2 separate regions of the Homo sapiens genome follow, and region 1 is linked to region 2. A link means that fine-mapping ties the variant in region 2 to the expression of a gene that starts in the linked region. Tissue or cell type: whole blood. Region 2 holds a variant in brackets; the other region holds the start of a gene. All regions are shown on one strand. Distances are between the middles of the regions.

Evidence for each region. PIP is the estimated chance that this variant, and not a neighbour inherited with it, causes the effect.
Region 1: PLOD2 starts here. The variant in region 2 is fine-mapped to the expression of PLOD2 in whole blood (INTERVAL, PIP 0.95).

Annotation. Positions count from the first base shown.
Region 1 is chr3:146,157,273-146,165,582 of GRCh38, reverse strand. PLOD2 (procollagen-lysine,2-oxoglutarate 5-dioxygenase 2) reads left to right here and starts at 4,399. Exons shown (of 20, transcript NM_182943.3): 1 at 4,399-4,702. The coding sequence starts at 4,594.
Region 2 is chr3:146,039,248-146,047,557 of GRCh38, reverse strand. No RefSeq gene overlaps it. Among named protein-coding and RNA genes, the nearest start is that of LNCSRLR, 26 kb to the left of the region's middle. The variant GT/T (reference allele first, on the strand shown) is at 3,558.

The sequences.
Region 1 (8,310 bases), 120 kb before region 2:
TTATTCACTCCACAAATATTCATTGAATAAATATTCGTTGACTCCTTTTTCTCTCCTACGCCCACATTCAGACATCAAATTTTGTTGACTCTACATTCAAATCTATCTGGAAATTGACCTTCATTTACTGCTACTGACTTGCTTAAAGCCTCCGTCATCTCTCTCCTGGACCACTGCATTAGCTTTCAAGTTGGTCTACAGGTCTACAGACTTTCTGTTTTATTTCTCCACTCACTCTCCCTTATCTTCCTCTAATGTGGCAGCTGTGGACTCTGTGATCCTTTTTAAATCCTACTTCAGATCATGTCACTGCTCTGCTTAGAACCATCCAAATGGCTTTTCAATTCATCCAGGGTAAAGGACAAAGCTGTTACTAGGTTCTACCCTTATCACACTGTCTGTTTATCTGCTTGCCTCCGCCCTGCTTGTTACCTTCTCAGGCTTCATCTCCTACTATTCTTATGCACAGTCACTGAACATTCAATTGCCCTCTTGCTTCCTCACAACACTCCAGGTATTTCTGGTCTCACAGTCCTTGCACTTCCTGTTTCTTCTGCCTGGAACACAGGTCCCCTGTACATCCTGGCCCCCTCTTTTTCTCACCACTTTCAGGTCTTTGCTCAAGAATCGTCTTCTCAGTGGGGCTTTCCCAGGATCCCTTACTAAGGTTTTGGTATACCTCCCCTCCTTATTGGTCCTTCCCAGTTACCTTTCCTGATTTACTTTCTCTCTACCACTTATTACCTTATATGTTTATCTCTGTTTCACCTGAAACTAAAGCACAGTAGATTTTTGTTTTTTCTGTCACTAATAAATTTGTTTTTACCAATATCTATCTAGAACAATGCCTGAGATATAGTAGTCATGGAATATTTTTTGAATGAATCAATGAATAAACAAATGTGCTACTATGGTACTTACTCTTTGATGATGAAAAATAATTGAATCCTGACCTTAACAGACACACTGTCTAATAATAATTCTAAGAAAAGACCCTGTCACAAATGAGAGAGGTTTGCTTCAGAAGTTAGAAATCATGGAACAGGGACATCTAAACCCATCCTGAGGTAGGGTAAGTTACCCCAGTTGGGCTTCCTGTAGGAGGTGGCACTTGAGCTTGACAGACATTAGCCCAATGAAGGAAGGAGGACAGGTTTTGTCATCCTTTTTTTTTTTAGATATAGGGATAACATGAACAAAGGTATGGTTGCTGAGCAAATGCTGCTTCTCTCATTTCTCCTCAAATTTCCTTACCATTTCTGAGCATGTCACCCTGACTTCTTATGATCAAGAGTTACATCATCAGAGTGGCTGCTACCATAGCAGGTTGGGAATGCCTGGGAATTAATGAGTGTCCCTCAGCCCTTAAGTCAATGACTGATAGGTGTTGGGAATATATATCCCAGTTCTCTGACCCATTGACCAGGATATTTTTGAGTGATATATAGTACATCAATTTTGTGGGATTAAGCTCCCATTACCCACTGTGGTTGATTTAATTGGATATTTTCCCTTTCCTGTGTCATTTTAGCTTCACCTATCTGGTTTTCTCAAAACTCTCCACAAACCGCTAGTCACTGAATTTGGGCTCATGCTTGGGCTTCAGAGGAACCCAAATGATTCCTACCTAAACTTTAGAGAATTAAAGTGACAAAGTATTTGGTCTGCTTTAGGAGATAATAAAGCAAACTACGTTGGTTGGGTTTAGTTTGGCATGAAGGAATCTGAATACTAGGTTAGGGAATGTGGATTGTTTCCAAATCTGTTATGAAATCTGTTTGGGGATGAAGCAATCAAAAGGATATCTGAGTATGATTAATCTAGTTGTGGTATATAGTGGTATTACACTGGTGGTAGGGAAAGTCTACAGGAAATGGCATAGGATACACTCAAGAGTGCATTAGTTAGTGAGGTAGCAGTGAGAATGGAAAGGAATAGATGAAGAGAGAACATGAAGGGAAAAAATGACAAGATTTGGAGTCCGGCTCTGTGAGTTGGCGGGTGTGGGGGATGGAAAGAGAGAAGTAAAAATGTCTGAGGCCATATGAGTTAGAGAGCAGTAGTATCAACAGAGATGAGGGAGCCGAGTGGGATCTGGATTTGATGAGTTAAAAGACATATCAGGCCGGGCTTGGTGGCTCACGCCTGTAATCCCAACACTTTGGGAGGCCGAGGCGGGCGGATCACGAGGTCAGGAGATCGAGACCATCCTGGCTAACACGGTGAAACCCCGTTTCGACTAAAAATACAAAAAAAAAAAAAAAAAATTAGCCGGGCCTGGTGGCGAGCGCCTGTAGTCCCAGCTACTCAGGAGGCTGAGGCAGGAGAATGGTGTGAACCCGGGAGGCGGAGGGAGCTTGCAGTGAGGGGATATCGCACCACCGCACTCTAGCCTAGGCAAAAGAGCGAGACTGTCTCAAAAAAAAAAAAAAAAGACATATCGAGTTTTTGCCAATGGAACATCCAAGTAGAAATGTTCAGCAGATGGCTGGAAATGTAAGAAAGCAGGAAGGATTTGGTTTGAGAATTGGGGCTCTTTCAGACTGTTAGAAATGTCTAGGTATTTGAAAATCCCAACACTTGCTTTATACGAGTCTCACAGCACAGATGTTGTGACTCTTAACAGAGAAGGAAGAATGTCAAAATAACCTGAAATTATTAGTGGACTTTTGGAGTTTAAACACACACACACACCTGTGATGCAGAGAAGCCGGTAAGCATTCATGAGGGGAACGGGGGTTTGGGAGGGCAGGAAGCCAGGTTGTAGCTCTCCAAGTTCTTAAAGATACTGGAGAACCAAGGAAGCAAGAAGTCAAGTTCAAGGAGTTTGGCAATTGCAGGTTTGGCTTTCTGGAGACAGATCTGGCCAAAACACCAGCCATTCCTAGCAGAGTCCTTGGACTCAGAGGACTGATGCTGTTTGCTTTGTGCCTAGTTTTATGAAGCTGTACTTGCCACACATGAAAGGCTGTTATTAAGGAATCCATCTTTTAGCTTTTTTTTTCCCCTTCAGACTAAATAAACCTTATTTCATTCTTCTCACAGGTCATAGTTTCCACTTCTTTAATTATTTGTTACTCTTCTCAGAACTTTCTCCAGTTTTCCTCTTCTTTTAAAAAACTGAGACCAAACCTTCAAAACAGAGTAATAACTGGCTTAGTTCTGGGCACAGGAAATGATTCTTTCTAAAATGTCACATCCCAGGCAAGATTTCTTTGCAGGGTTTTCCACCTGTTTTTAATGCTATCAAGATGAAAGCATTAAGTTCATGTTATCTTGATATGTTAATTTTAGACAAAACGTGATCATAATGGAACACATTTTTCCATAATTTTCTGTCTTAATTTCAAAGGCCCAGAGTTATAACGGGTGTTGTCTCGATTCTGTTTTTTTCTAATTTCACGAAAATTTAGGCAGGAGATTCCAGAATGGTAGCAGTTTGGTTCTCTTTCTCCTATAAAATAGCTTATGTCATTAAATGTATGAGGCAAAACTGTCAAGCTTTTTTCTTAATTGTGCTTTTGCTCCCACTCATTCCAACAAGTTAAACCCTTGGCTAGTTAAAATGTGAGAACAGAAAAAAGGGAATTTTCTTAGACATCAGTCAAAAGTGGAAGCAGTGGGGGCCAAGGCTCAGAGATCTCGACCTCTCCGACCACGTCTTTGGGAGTAATTTTCCATGCGGACTGGAGCACGATCTTGTAAGCACAGCCCCGGCATTACACACGTTGGGCTCCGATTCCGCAGGATTTACAAGCCTCATTACTGGAAAGAGTCTAAGGCTCTCTTGGCACAAGCGGCGGAGCAAGAAATGTTCACTGGACAATAAAACTTTCGGTTTACGGAGTAAAATAAAATCACGGCCTTCCTTTTACAGGGTGATGAACCTGCCCCTGAATTAATGAGGGGCGATCCATTTCCATGGCTTAAGAGTCTGGCGAGGTCCCAGTCAGCCAAGATTGCCGCAGATTTGCAGTCACTTCAGACTGGGTGGAGTATCCAAGTCCATAGAAGAGCAAATTCTCACCCTTCGAGGCTGCTGTGGAAGCTACCGGGGCTGGGACAGCAGAGAGGAACCCAGACGGGAACACCGCCCTCCCGCCAGACTCCCGGCGGCTCCTCCTCCCTCTCCCAAACCCACTCCCAAAGCTAAGTGCAGGCTTCCCCGTTCCAGCCAGAAGCGCTGCGTGAGCCTCCACACGTAGCCGCAGGCAGCTCCTTAAATAGCGTCCGCGCTGAGCAAACAGTCCAGACGTGGGGCCCAGGAGGGCGAGCTGAGGCGACCGCACCGGGCGCGCAGCGGCGGCGGGTCAGCCGGCGGCCAATAGCCAGGGCGCGGCCCGCCCCGTCGCCTCCCCTCGGGGAGCCTATAAGGCCTCCGCAGCGCCCCGGGCGCCTGCTGCTCCGTGCCTCCACCGACGACCTCACTCAGCTGCGTTACGCGCCGCTCCGGCTGCCGGCCGCGCGCCTTGCCCGCCGGCTCCCGCCCGCAATCGGCGGCTCAGGGCGGACCCGGGTCTCTGCGTTCTCGCGAGAAGCGCGGCGCTGCGGGGCCGTGGGCGCCTGAGCCCGCGCGGCCCTCGAGGGCCGAATATGGGGGGATGCACGGTGAAGCCTCAGCTGCTGCTCCTGGCGCTCGTCCTCCACCCCTGGAATCCCTGTCTGGGTGCGGACTCGGAGAAGCCCTCGAGCATCCCCACAGGTGAGCACCCCGCGGTCCGCCGCTGTCCCGCGAGGCTCGGCCGGCGGGGGGGCAGTTCATTCATCCACCAGCCCTTCCGCGGGGCTGGCCAGGTGAGTAGTGGGGGCCTGTCCCTCCTCTCCAGGACCGCCGGGGTCTTCCCCAGAATTGCGGTCGGGCGGCGCTGGTCCCTGGGGAAGTGTAGGGGCACCCGCCCTCGTTGACTCCTTGGAGTTCTCGGTGAACTCAGCGTGCCCGAATTTCCCTGCAGAACAAGTTGGAGTTTCCTTTTGGACTTGCAGGTCATGGGCACCAACACCTTTCCTGCAGCTCTCCTTTCCCCTCCTTTCCGAGAGTTGGCATGGATTTATCCTTGATGGACGAGGCAGTACTCCTTCTGTGACCTAAACACGGGGCTTAGTGTACTTTCTAATTGATGGTGACACATTCCTTCCAGCACCCCAGGAAGCAGCCGGTAACACCTCCCTCTTGCCAAAAACAACGCTCGCTCGAAAACCTTAGTTGTTTTCAGTAAGGCTGCCTGGCTACCCAGTACCTCCAGGCGGCAGCTTTCTTCCTTTGGGATCTGAAGGGGAAGCTGTGGACACACAGCTGCTCCCCTTACCTACCCTTTTCTTGAGCCCGGTGCTGTCTCTCGTTTTCAGAAGCTGTGTAAAACAAAACGTTTTATATTTAGCCAGATTAAAGAGAGTTTCACCACGTCTGTCTAAACATGCTTTGCTGCCTTTTGTGGCACATGAAAAATCCTTGGAGTTTTCCACATTTGTGCTCTTTGTGCTCAACTCTCTGAAATTAGATCTTGCATTTAAATGACCTTCTAATGTCCTTTTTGTTTTGTTTTGTTTTTTGTTAAGTCATCTTGGCACCATTTTTTCCCCCAAGTTTATAATAGAGTGCTTTTCTACTTGAACTTTTCTTAAGCCTAAGGACAGAAATTTCTATTTCAGAGTTACATTCAGAAAGTGACATTTGGTTTGCAGTCCAGCTAATCCATGTAGCGATAGTTTTGTCTTCATCTTTAAGTGTTTCAGAAAGCGTCAGCAGGCTGAACTGCCTATCTTTCTACAAAACAGTGCTTGCTTTGTTAGCTTGAGAAACTTCAGCATTCAGATGGATTTCTATCAGTTACAGGATGCTTTTCTTTCTGTTAGGTATATGTGACCATTTAAAAATGGATTTCTGAACCCGTGTGATTCCTCTAAATTTGAACTAAACTTTTGCATAATTTAAAAATATTTCTTCTAACATAATATCTGGAAAGTAGAAAGTAAATACTTTCAGCAAATTTGGAAGTAGAGAAATTTAAAAAGGAAAAACAGAACAAAAAGCCTTCCCCAGAAAAATGTCTTTCTTTGTTGAAACACCCAAGGAGACTTTAACTGGGAAATAAAATAACCTCTAAGGACTTTGTAATATTTAGAGAGGCCTCTTTGGCCTTTGTATATTTTATTCCACTTCATTGCCAACACCCCTAACTTTTTAATAGAGGACATCCCTTTGTATCTGCCTTTATATTTATAGTCAAAATCAAATTCCCTTCTCACTCTGGATTTTAAATTTCATGGAACTGGACAGTAAACTTTTAATGGATTGTGATATCAGAGAAAGAGAATTTTAGGTATGAAAGTTTCCTCAGGAAACGACCACATGAAACCCACTGTTTAAATCTGAGGACTGGTCACTTGGTAAGCAGGCATGGAGAATTCGGTTAGGGTCGAAATGTGGGAAAATACTAATTTGTGATAGGTGAAGCCAGCAGTAGTCAGTTTGATTACAAATTTCGGTGTAGGTAGGTGTTCTCATAGGTTATGTGATAAACTAATAAATGTAGAGGTAAACTGCTTGATAAAGTGGGCAGAATCATGGACTGTGGTCTATTTTATTCTTTACAAGTTTCAACTGAAAATTACTAAATAGAAGCTTATTCGTTGACATAAATATCAAGATCTTCTATAGGACCCTAAATTGTCTAGCTTAATAGTTCTTTAAGAAGAGTGCTTATCATCTCTAACCCTGTATATTTGTCAACATGTCCCAGCTAACCAAGAAGAAATGGTTTAAATCACAATTTCTTGGCCCTATTGACATTTTGAGCCAGACACTTCTTTGCTTTGAGGGACTATCCTGTGCATTGATGTTTAGCAGTATCCTTAACCTCTGTGCACTAGATGCCAGTAGTATAACCTTTCTAATCTGAGCACCAAAAAAACAAAAAAGGCCTAATGTCCCCAGAGGGACAAAATTGCCCAGGGTTAAGAATCCCTGGATTAGACTAATCTATTTGTATTTGAGGCAATATGGCATTATAGTGTTACTGGAATGATAACAGCAAATTATTTTTGAAAACAAATATTTATAGTGATTTTCAGTTTACCCACTGTAGTTGGGAATGTGATACACATTCATCAATTTTTGGAGTGTAGTTTTTCCTAGCTCTGGTGCTTTGTTGACCAGAGTTGAGAACATAGATTTTTGTTAAATTTTTGAGAGTTCTGTGTGCTGTATTGATTCCTTTTGGTTGCCACTTTATTCTTAGCATGGAAAGACTAAATAAGATTTTGGCTAAAATAATCATTTTCTCTGAAAATAACGTATAGGAATTGTTACCTGAAAATTATATCCTTATGGGAGCTTTCAGAGGCAGAACCTTCTTAATCAGTGCCAGTAAATCAGGTTCATACCCTGATTTATCTTTCCTGCCCTTTCTGCCTTCTAGATGGGATAAGGAGAAGGTGGATGTATTCCTGCCAAGTCTTTGCCGTCATGTCTCCAGACCTGGATAAAATTTGTGTGTGTTTTCTGAGGCACCTTACTATTCTATGATCCAAACTGGGCAGAAACCAAGTTTTGGGCAAAAACAAAGGAAATGGTTTCAAATGTTTCTGTCAAGACCAGTATTTTTGTACCACATTCATTCATTTATAAACTCTCTAATTTACTGTGGTACATTCAAGGAAAAAAGGAAAGGTTTGTCCCTATCTACTGATGCAAACCAGCAATTTATGGGGTGGAGAGGAAAAGAGCAAGGGCCTGGAGAAACCTCTGGAAGAGAGAGGGTCTTGTCCTCTGTACTTTCTGTATTCTGTGCTTCAGCCACACAGAATGACATATCATCCATAAACAGACTGTGCCTTTTATTTCACATGACAACAGACATATAAAACTACTATAGAGAATGTGAAGACAAGAAATGAAAATTAAATTGAGCTACCCTTTTCTATCCAACACATGGGACAAAGCATCTTAAAATAAACTCTGATTGTACCAAATGTCAGGATGGGAATTGACCGTTGATGGAAGCACAGTGTCTTTGGAGAACAATTTAATAATATCTACTGGAATTGAGAATCCGCATGTCCTGTAATCCTAGATATGTGCATGAATAGCACTCTCAAATTTCTGTTCCTTCCTTTTTAGTTTTTTGAAATCCTGTTTATTGTTTAAGTCTAGCTCCTAGGAAATTCTTCTCCTGGCTATTTTTGTTTGGTTCTTTTTATTTTTAACTTCTTAATGTAGCTGGTTTATACAAATCATATTTACTTTGTACTATAGGTCCTTATGTTTAATAAATTGTAAACTCTTCAAAGTGAAGGGCTGAGTTTTATTCA
Region 2 (8,310 bases):
GATTAGGCCATCATAAGGTGGACTCTAGAAACAAAGCCTATTAAGTATGTCTTGGATATAAGTTTATAGACACCCACATCTTAGCTGGACACAAAATTTGTTTAACTAAACAGTTATCCAAATGGTTTTCCCAGTGGAAAATAATTGTTTTTCGTTTGTTGTTGTTTTAGAGATAACTTGGCCAGAGTCAACATTTCCTCATATTCCCTATTCGCATTGATTTGTGTTTGAAAATTTAAATTATAGTCATTGGTGGTAATTCAGAAATCATCAGAAATACCCAAGGCCCTGTTCAAACCATGAAACTAGAAATTAATTTGTACATTCATTCACCAAATATCAATTATTGAATACCTTCTCTGTGTCAGGCACATGCTAGGCATAGACATTTAACAGTTAAGCAGAACCAAAACAAAAAACAGGATCTGTGATCACACAGATTGATTTTTAAGTTGTGATTAAGAGATGATATGGTTTGGCTCTATGTCCTCACCCAAATCTCATGTCAAATTGTAATTCCCATGTGTTGGAGGAGGGGTCTGATGAGAGGTGATTGAATCTTGGTGGTAGATTTCCCTCTTGCTGTTCTTGTGATAATGAGTGAGTTCTCATGAGATCTGCTTGTTTAAAAGTATGTTGCACGCCAGACGTGATGGTTCACGCCTGTAATCCCAGCACTTTGGGAGGCCGAGGCTGGTGGATCACCTGAGGTCGAGAGCTCGAGACCAGCCTGACCAACATGGAGAAACCCCGTCTCTACTAAAAATACAAAGTTAGCAGGGCGTGGTGGGGCATACCTGTAATCCCAGCTATTTGGGAGGCTGACGCAGGAGAATCACTTGAACCCGGGAGGCAGAGGTTGTGGTGAGCTGAGATCATGCCATTGCACTCCAGCCTGGGCAACAAGTGTGAAACTCCATCTCAAATAAATAAATAAATAAATAAATAAATAAATAAATAAATAGTGTGTTGCACTTTCCCCTTTGCTCTCTCTCCTGCCCTGCCATGAGAAGACATGCTTGCTTCCCCTTCTCTTTTCTTGTAAGTTTTCTGAGGCCTCCCAGCCATGCTTCTTGCATAGCCTGCAGAATTGTGAGTCAATTAAACCTCTTTTCTTTATAAACTACCCAGTCTCAGACAGTTCTTTTAGCAAGGTGAGTAAGAACTATTACAGAAAATTTGTACCGAGAGTGGAGTATAAAGACACCTGAAAATGTAGAAGTGACGTTGGAACTGGATAATGGGGAAGTGTTGGAACAGTTCAGAGAGATAAGAAAATGACAGGAAGATGAGGAAATGTTTGGAACTTCCTGGAGACTTGTTGAATGGCTGTGACCATAATGCTAATAGTGATATGGACAGTGAAGTCTAGGCTGAGGTGGTCTTAGGTGGAGATGGGGAACTTATTGGGAACTTGAGTAAAGGTCACTCTTGCTATGCTTTAGCAAAGAGACTGGCAGCATTGTACCCCTGCTTTAGGGATCTATGGAACTTTGAACTTAAAGAGAAGATTTAGGGTATCTGGTAGAAGACATTTCTAAGCAGCAAAGCATTCAAGAGTTGACCTGGTTGATGCTGAAAGCATTCAGTTATATGTGCTCACAAACAGAGCCTGACCATGTGGTAGAAAAGAAAATCCCATTTTCTGGGGCCAGGCCCAAGGCCCCGTTGCTCTGTACAGCCTTGGGACATGGCACCCTGTGTCCCAGCCACTCCAACTCCAGCTATGGCTAATAGGGACCAAGGTACAGCTTGGGTCATGACTTCAGAGGGGGCAAGTCCCAAGCCTTGGCAGCTTCCACATGGTGTTGGGCCTGTGGTGTGCAGAAGGCAAGAGTTGGAGTTTGGGAGCCTTTGCCTAGATTTCATAGGATGTACAGAAACACCTGCATATCCAGGTAGAAATCTGCTGCAAGGGTGGAGACCTCATGAAGAACCTCTACTAGGGCAGTGCAGAGGGGAAATGTGAGGTTGGAGCCTCCATGCAGACTCCCCACTGGGGCAGTGCCTAGTAGAGCTGTGAGAAGAGAGCCACTGTCCTTCAGATTCCTGAATGATGGTTCAACCAACAGCTTGCACTATGTGTCTGGAAAAGCCATACGCACCGAACACCATCCTGTGAAAGCAGCTGTGGTGGCTGTACCCTGAAGAGCCATAGGGGAAGAGCTGCCCAAGGCCGTAGGAGCCCACCCCTTACATAAGCATGCCCTGGATGTAAGACATGGACTGAAAGGAGATTATTTTGGAGCTTTAAGATTTAATGAGTTTCCTGCTTGGTTTTGGACTTGTATGGGGCCTGTAACCCCTTTGTTTTGGCCAATTTCTCCCTTTTGGAATGGGAGAAATTTACCCAATGCCTCTACCCCCCTTGTATCTTTGAAGTAACTAACTTGTTTTTTATTTTACAGGCTCATAGGCAGAAGAGACTTGCTTTGTCTCAGATGAGACTTTGGACTTGGATTTTGAGTTAATGCTGAAATGAGTTAAGACCTGGGGGACTATTGGGAAGGCATGATTCTGTTTTGAAATGTGAGAAGGACATGAGATTTGGGAGGAGCCATGGTGGAATGATATGGTTTGGTTCTGTGTCCCCACACAATTCTCATGTCAAATTGTCATTCCCATGTTTTAGAGGAGAGGGTCTCATGGGAGGTGATTGAATCATGGGGGCAGATTTTCCTCTTGTCGTTCTCAAGATACTGAGTGAGTTTTCACAAGATCTTGTGGTTTAAAAGTGTGTAGCCTTTCCCCCTTTGTTCTCTCTCCTGCTTTGCCATTGTAAGACATACTTGCCTCTCCTTCTCCTTCTGCTGTAACTGTTAAGTTTCCTGAGGTCTCCCAGCCATGTCTCCTTTACAATCTGCAGAACTGTAAGTCAATTAAACCTCTTTTCTTTATAAACTACCCAGTCTCAGGTATTTCTTTATAGCCATTTGAGAATGGAGTAATGCAAGAGATTACACCTAGCTCAAATTTCAGTTTATATACTCAACTGTTACTCCACATCTCCACTTAGATCTACAATGGACATCTCAAACCTATCATATCCCCAATTGAATTCTTGATATTCTGCTTCTAAATCTGGCCTTTTGATAATCATCCTTGTCTCATAATACAGTAGTATCCCTTATCCATAGCCTCACTTTCAGTGGTTTCAGATACCTTCAGCAAACTGTGGTCTGAAAATATTAAATGGAAAATGCTAATAATACCACTTCATAAGTTTTAAATTGCACACAGTTCTGAATTGTGTGATAAAATCTCACACCATCCCACTCTGTCCTAACTGGAATGTGAATCATTGCTTTGTTCAGCATATTCTTGCTGTGCACACCACCTGCCTATTAGTCACTTACTGCCCAGCTTGTTGAGTATCACTGTATCACTGTGTTCTGTTCAATTAGCCCTTATTTTAATTAATAATGGCCTCAAAGCACAAGAGTAATGATGCTGACAACTTGGATACACTAAAGAGAAACTGTATTGTGCTTCCTTTAAGTAAAAAGATGAAGTCTCTTGAATTAAGGAAAGCAAAAAAGAAAAAAAAAAAGAAAAAA[GT/T]TGTATGCTGAGGTTGGTAAGATCTAAGGTAATTAACATGGTTTGGCTGTGTCCCCACCCAAATCTCATCTTGAATTGTAACTCCCACAATTCTCACATGTTGTGGGAGGAACCTGGTGGGAGGTGATTGAATTATGGGAGTGGGTCTTTCCTGAGCTGTTCTCATGAAAGTGAATGAGTCTCATGAGATCTGATGGTTTTAAATACAGGAGTTTCCCTGCACAAGCTCTCTCTTTGTCTGCTACCAACCACGTAAGATATGACTTGCTCCTCCTTGCTTTCCCCCAAGATTGTGTGGCCTCCTCAGCCATGTGGAACTCTAAGTCCATTAAAACTCTTTTTCTTCCCAGTCTTGGGAATGTCTTTATCAGCAGCATGAGAACAGACTAATACAGTAAATTGGTACCAGTAGAGTGGGGCATTGCTGTAAAGATACCAGAAAATGTGGAAGTGACTTTGGAACTGGGTAACAGGCAGAGGTTGGAAGAGTTTGGAGGGCTCAGAAGAAGACAGAAAAATATGGGAAAGTTTGGAACTTCCTAGAGACTTCTTGAATGGCTTTGCCCAAAATGCTGATAGCGATATGGACAATAAAGTCCAGGCTAAGGTGGTCTCAGATAGAAATGAGGAACTTGTTGGAACTGGAACAATGGCGATTCTCATTATGTTTTAGCAAAGAGACTGGCAGCATTTTGCCCCTACCCTAGAGATTTGTGGAACTTTGAGCTTGAGAAAGATGATTTAGGGTGTCTGGTGGAAGAAGTTTCTAAGCAGCAATGTATTCAAAATATTACTTGGGTGCTGGTAAAGGCATTCAGTTTTAAAAGGGAAACAGAGCATAAAAATTTGGAAAATCTGTAGCCTCATAATGCAATAGAAAAGAAAATTCCATTTTCTGAGGAGAAATTCAAGCCAGTTGCAGAAATTTGCAGAAGTAACGAGGAGATGAATGATAATCCCAAAGACAAAGGAGGAAATGTCTCCAGGGTATGTCAGAGGTCTTCACAGCAGCCCCTCCCATCACAAGCCCAGAGGCCTAGGAAGAAAAAGTGGTTTTGTGGGCCAGGCCCAGAGTCCCCATGCTGTGTGCAGCCTAGGGACTTTGTGTCCTGCTTCCCAGTCGCTCCGGCCGTGGCTGAAAGGAGCTGATGTAGAGCTTTTGCCATGGCTTCAGAGGCTGCTAGTCTCAAGCCTTGGCAGCTTCCACATGGTTTTGAGCCTCTGGGTGGACAGAGGTCAAGAATTGAGGTTTGGGAACCTCTGTCTAGATTTCAGAGAATATATAGAAATGCCTGAATATAAAGACATTTATATAAAGACAGAAGGTTGCTGCAGGGCCAGGGATCTCCTGGAGAACCTCTGCTAGGGCAGTGTGGAAGGAAAATATGTGGTTAGAGCCTCCACGTAGAGTTCCTAATGGGGCACTGCCTAGTGGAGCTGTGAGAGAAGGGCCACTATCCTCCAGACCCCAGAATGGTAGATCCACTGATAGCTTGCACTATGCGCCTGGAGAAGCCACACACAGCCACACACCCTGTGAAAGCAGCTGGGAGGGAGGCTGTATCCTGGAAAGCTACAGGGGCAGAGCTGCCCAAGACCATGGGCACTCACCTCTTGCATCAGCGTGACCTGGACGTGAAACACGGAGTCAAAGGAGATCATTTTGGAGCTTTAATATTTGACTGTCCCACTGGATTTTTGGCTTGCATGGGGCCTGTAGCCCCTTTGCTTTGGCCAATTTCTTCCATTTGGAATGGCCCTATTTACCCAGTGCCTGTACCCACATTGTAACTAGGAATTAACTAACTTGCTTTTGATTTTACCGGCTCATAGGTGGAAGGGACTTGCCTTGTCTCAGATGAGACGCTGGACTGTGGACTTTTGAGTTAATGCTGAAATGAGTTAAGACTTTGGGAGGCTGTTAGGAAGGCATGATTTGTTTCGAAGTGTGGGTACATGAGATTTGGGAGGGCCTGTGGTGGAATGGTATGGTTTGGCTGTGTTCCCACCCAAATCTCATCTTGAATTGTTACTCCCACAATTCCCATGTGTCATGGGAGGAATCTGGTGGGAGGTGATTGAATTATGGGAGCAGGTCTTTCTTGGACTGTTTTTGTGATAGTGAATGAGTCTCAAGAGATCTGATGGTTTTAAAAATGGGAATTTCCCTGCACAAGCTCTCTCTTTGCCTGCAGCCATCCACGTAAAATGTGACTTGCTCCTTCTTGCTTTCTGCCATGATTGTGAGGCCTCCCTAGCCCCGCAGAACTGTAAGTCCATAAAACCTCTTTTACTTCCCAGTCTTGGGTATCTCTTTATCAGCAGCCTGAGAACTGACTAATACAGTAATAATAAATTTTCTATACATGAAATCGTGAAATAGAAAAAAGAAAATTGTGCTAGTTTTGCTCTTGCTACTCAAACTGAAAAATTTATGGGCACAGTGCATGATAAGTGCTTAGTTATGATGGAAAAGGCCTTAAATTGTGGGTGGAAGTCATGAGCAAAAAATAAAACATATACTGATTGAAGGCAACCTGTTGTACTTGGGCCCATTCAGCCTATATAAAGACTTCAGCAAGGGATTCTTTGAAATGAGTGACACCAAGCCATTTACTACAAGTAAGAGATAATTATACAGATTCAGGAATAGGTTTGAACCTGAAAATATAAAAATTACTGAAGAGGCTGTATCTGCAGATGAAGAAGCTGCACATTTCCAGCAGATTTAAAGGAATTGATTAAGGAGAAAGGATACCATCCAAAGCAAATCTTCAATTGTGATGAAACCTGGCTCTGCTGGAAGAAGATGACCAATAGCACCTACATTCATAAAAGTCCAAAAAAGGCATCAGGTGATAAAACATGGAAGGACAGATTAACTCTGGTACTGTGTGGCAATACTGCAAGGCATGTGATAAAGCCGGGCATAGTGTACAAAGCAAAGATCCAAAACCAATGCCAAAACCAAAAATTATTTGCCCATGTTATGGTAACATAATCAGAATGCATGAATGATAGCCATATTGTTTATGGAATGGTTCCACCAATGCTTCATCCTGGAAGTGAAAAATACTTGGAAGATAAAGGATTGGAATTTAAAGTCTTTTTAATAATAGGGAATGCACTGAACCATCCTGAATATTTGCTACAAAAATGAAAATGTTGATGTTGCATTTTTACCTCCAAATACAACCTAATTGCTTCAGCCCCTTGACCAGGTTATCATCTAGTCTGTCAAGGCCACATAAACCTGCTCAGTATTTGATTGAATTCAATTAGCAATTGATGCAGACTCTAATCTGGACATTATGGAGTGCTGGAAATCACTCACTATTGCTGTCACAATAATATTAATCAAGTTGTAATTGGTGAATTAAAACCAAAACTGCAAATGTCTGCTGAAAGAACATATGGAGTGAAATTGTGAAAGCTTCCTGAAGGTTGATGGCAAAGTTAGGAAAATAATTCCTGCAGCAAAGGAGAAGGATTTGCCAACATACTTGCTCAGGTGGAAGAACATTTTGAAGGCCATCAAGAAGTATTAACAAATAAGAAATTGGAAGAACTTGTTGAATCATCTACAGAGGAATAGGGATACGAAGAAGAATAAAAAACAGAAGCAGAATCAGCAATGTGGACATTACGAAAATTTGCTGACATGTTTTCAGCTGCAAAGACATTAAAGGACAAAATTATGGAATATAATCCTTGGATCAAATGCAGCATTAAAGTCACTCATATGATTATGATTACCAAAGGATTACAACCTCGGCAGCAACACTTTGATGAGTTAAAAAGAAAGAGACAACAAATTTTTATTATGGTTATAATGTTATTCCAAAACATTTTGGCAAAAAACTTCAATTATGGAATCCTCTACCATCACATTGTCTGCTCCAGGCATCCAATCATGGCTGAATGATCCAAGATCACCAGAAGCAGATGATCTTCTTTCTGACTTATTAGAAGCTCAATAGCAGCCTAATGCTCCATCAAAATGCCTGCCATTCACCTCACTTCAGCTCATCACATACATAGGCATTGTATCATTTCACATCATCATCATAAGGGTTAGTACAGCAAAATAAGATATGTTGAGAGACAGGGAGATAGCACATTAATATAACTTTCATTACACTATATTATTATACTTGTTCTCTTATTATTATTGTTATTAATATCTTACTTTACCTAATTTATAAATTAAACTTTATCATACGTATATATGTACAGGAGAAAACATAGTATAGATTCTGGTAGTATTCATTTTCAGATATTCACTGGGGGGTCTTGGAACATATCACCTGTGGATAAAGGAGGATACTATAATGATCACTGTAGTTTACTACTTGCTCAGACAAAAATATATGGTATGATCCTTGACTACTTTCTTTCTCTCATATCCTATATTCAATTCATCTGCACTTTACTTTTAAAGTATGTTCCAAAAACATCTAGTTCCTACAGTATCTAATATGCACAGTAGTCCCAGGCACTATCATCTCTTGCCAGAACTATTGACTGCTACAGTCTTCTAAATGGTCTCTTTCTCCACCTTATTTCTTATAGTCTTTTATCCACACAGCAGACAGAGTGATCCTTCTAAGTTGGTTCATATCACAGCTCTATTCACATCTCTCCATGGCTTCTATTCCAGGCAGAATTAAACCCCAAGTCTACATCAGAGCGTCCATGTCCCCCATGATTGTGCCACTGTGCCACTCACTTCACCACTTTGCCCTCATTCTA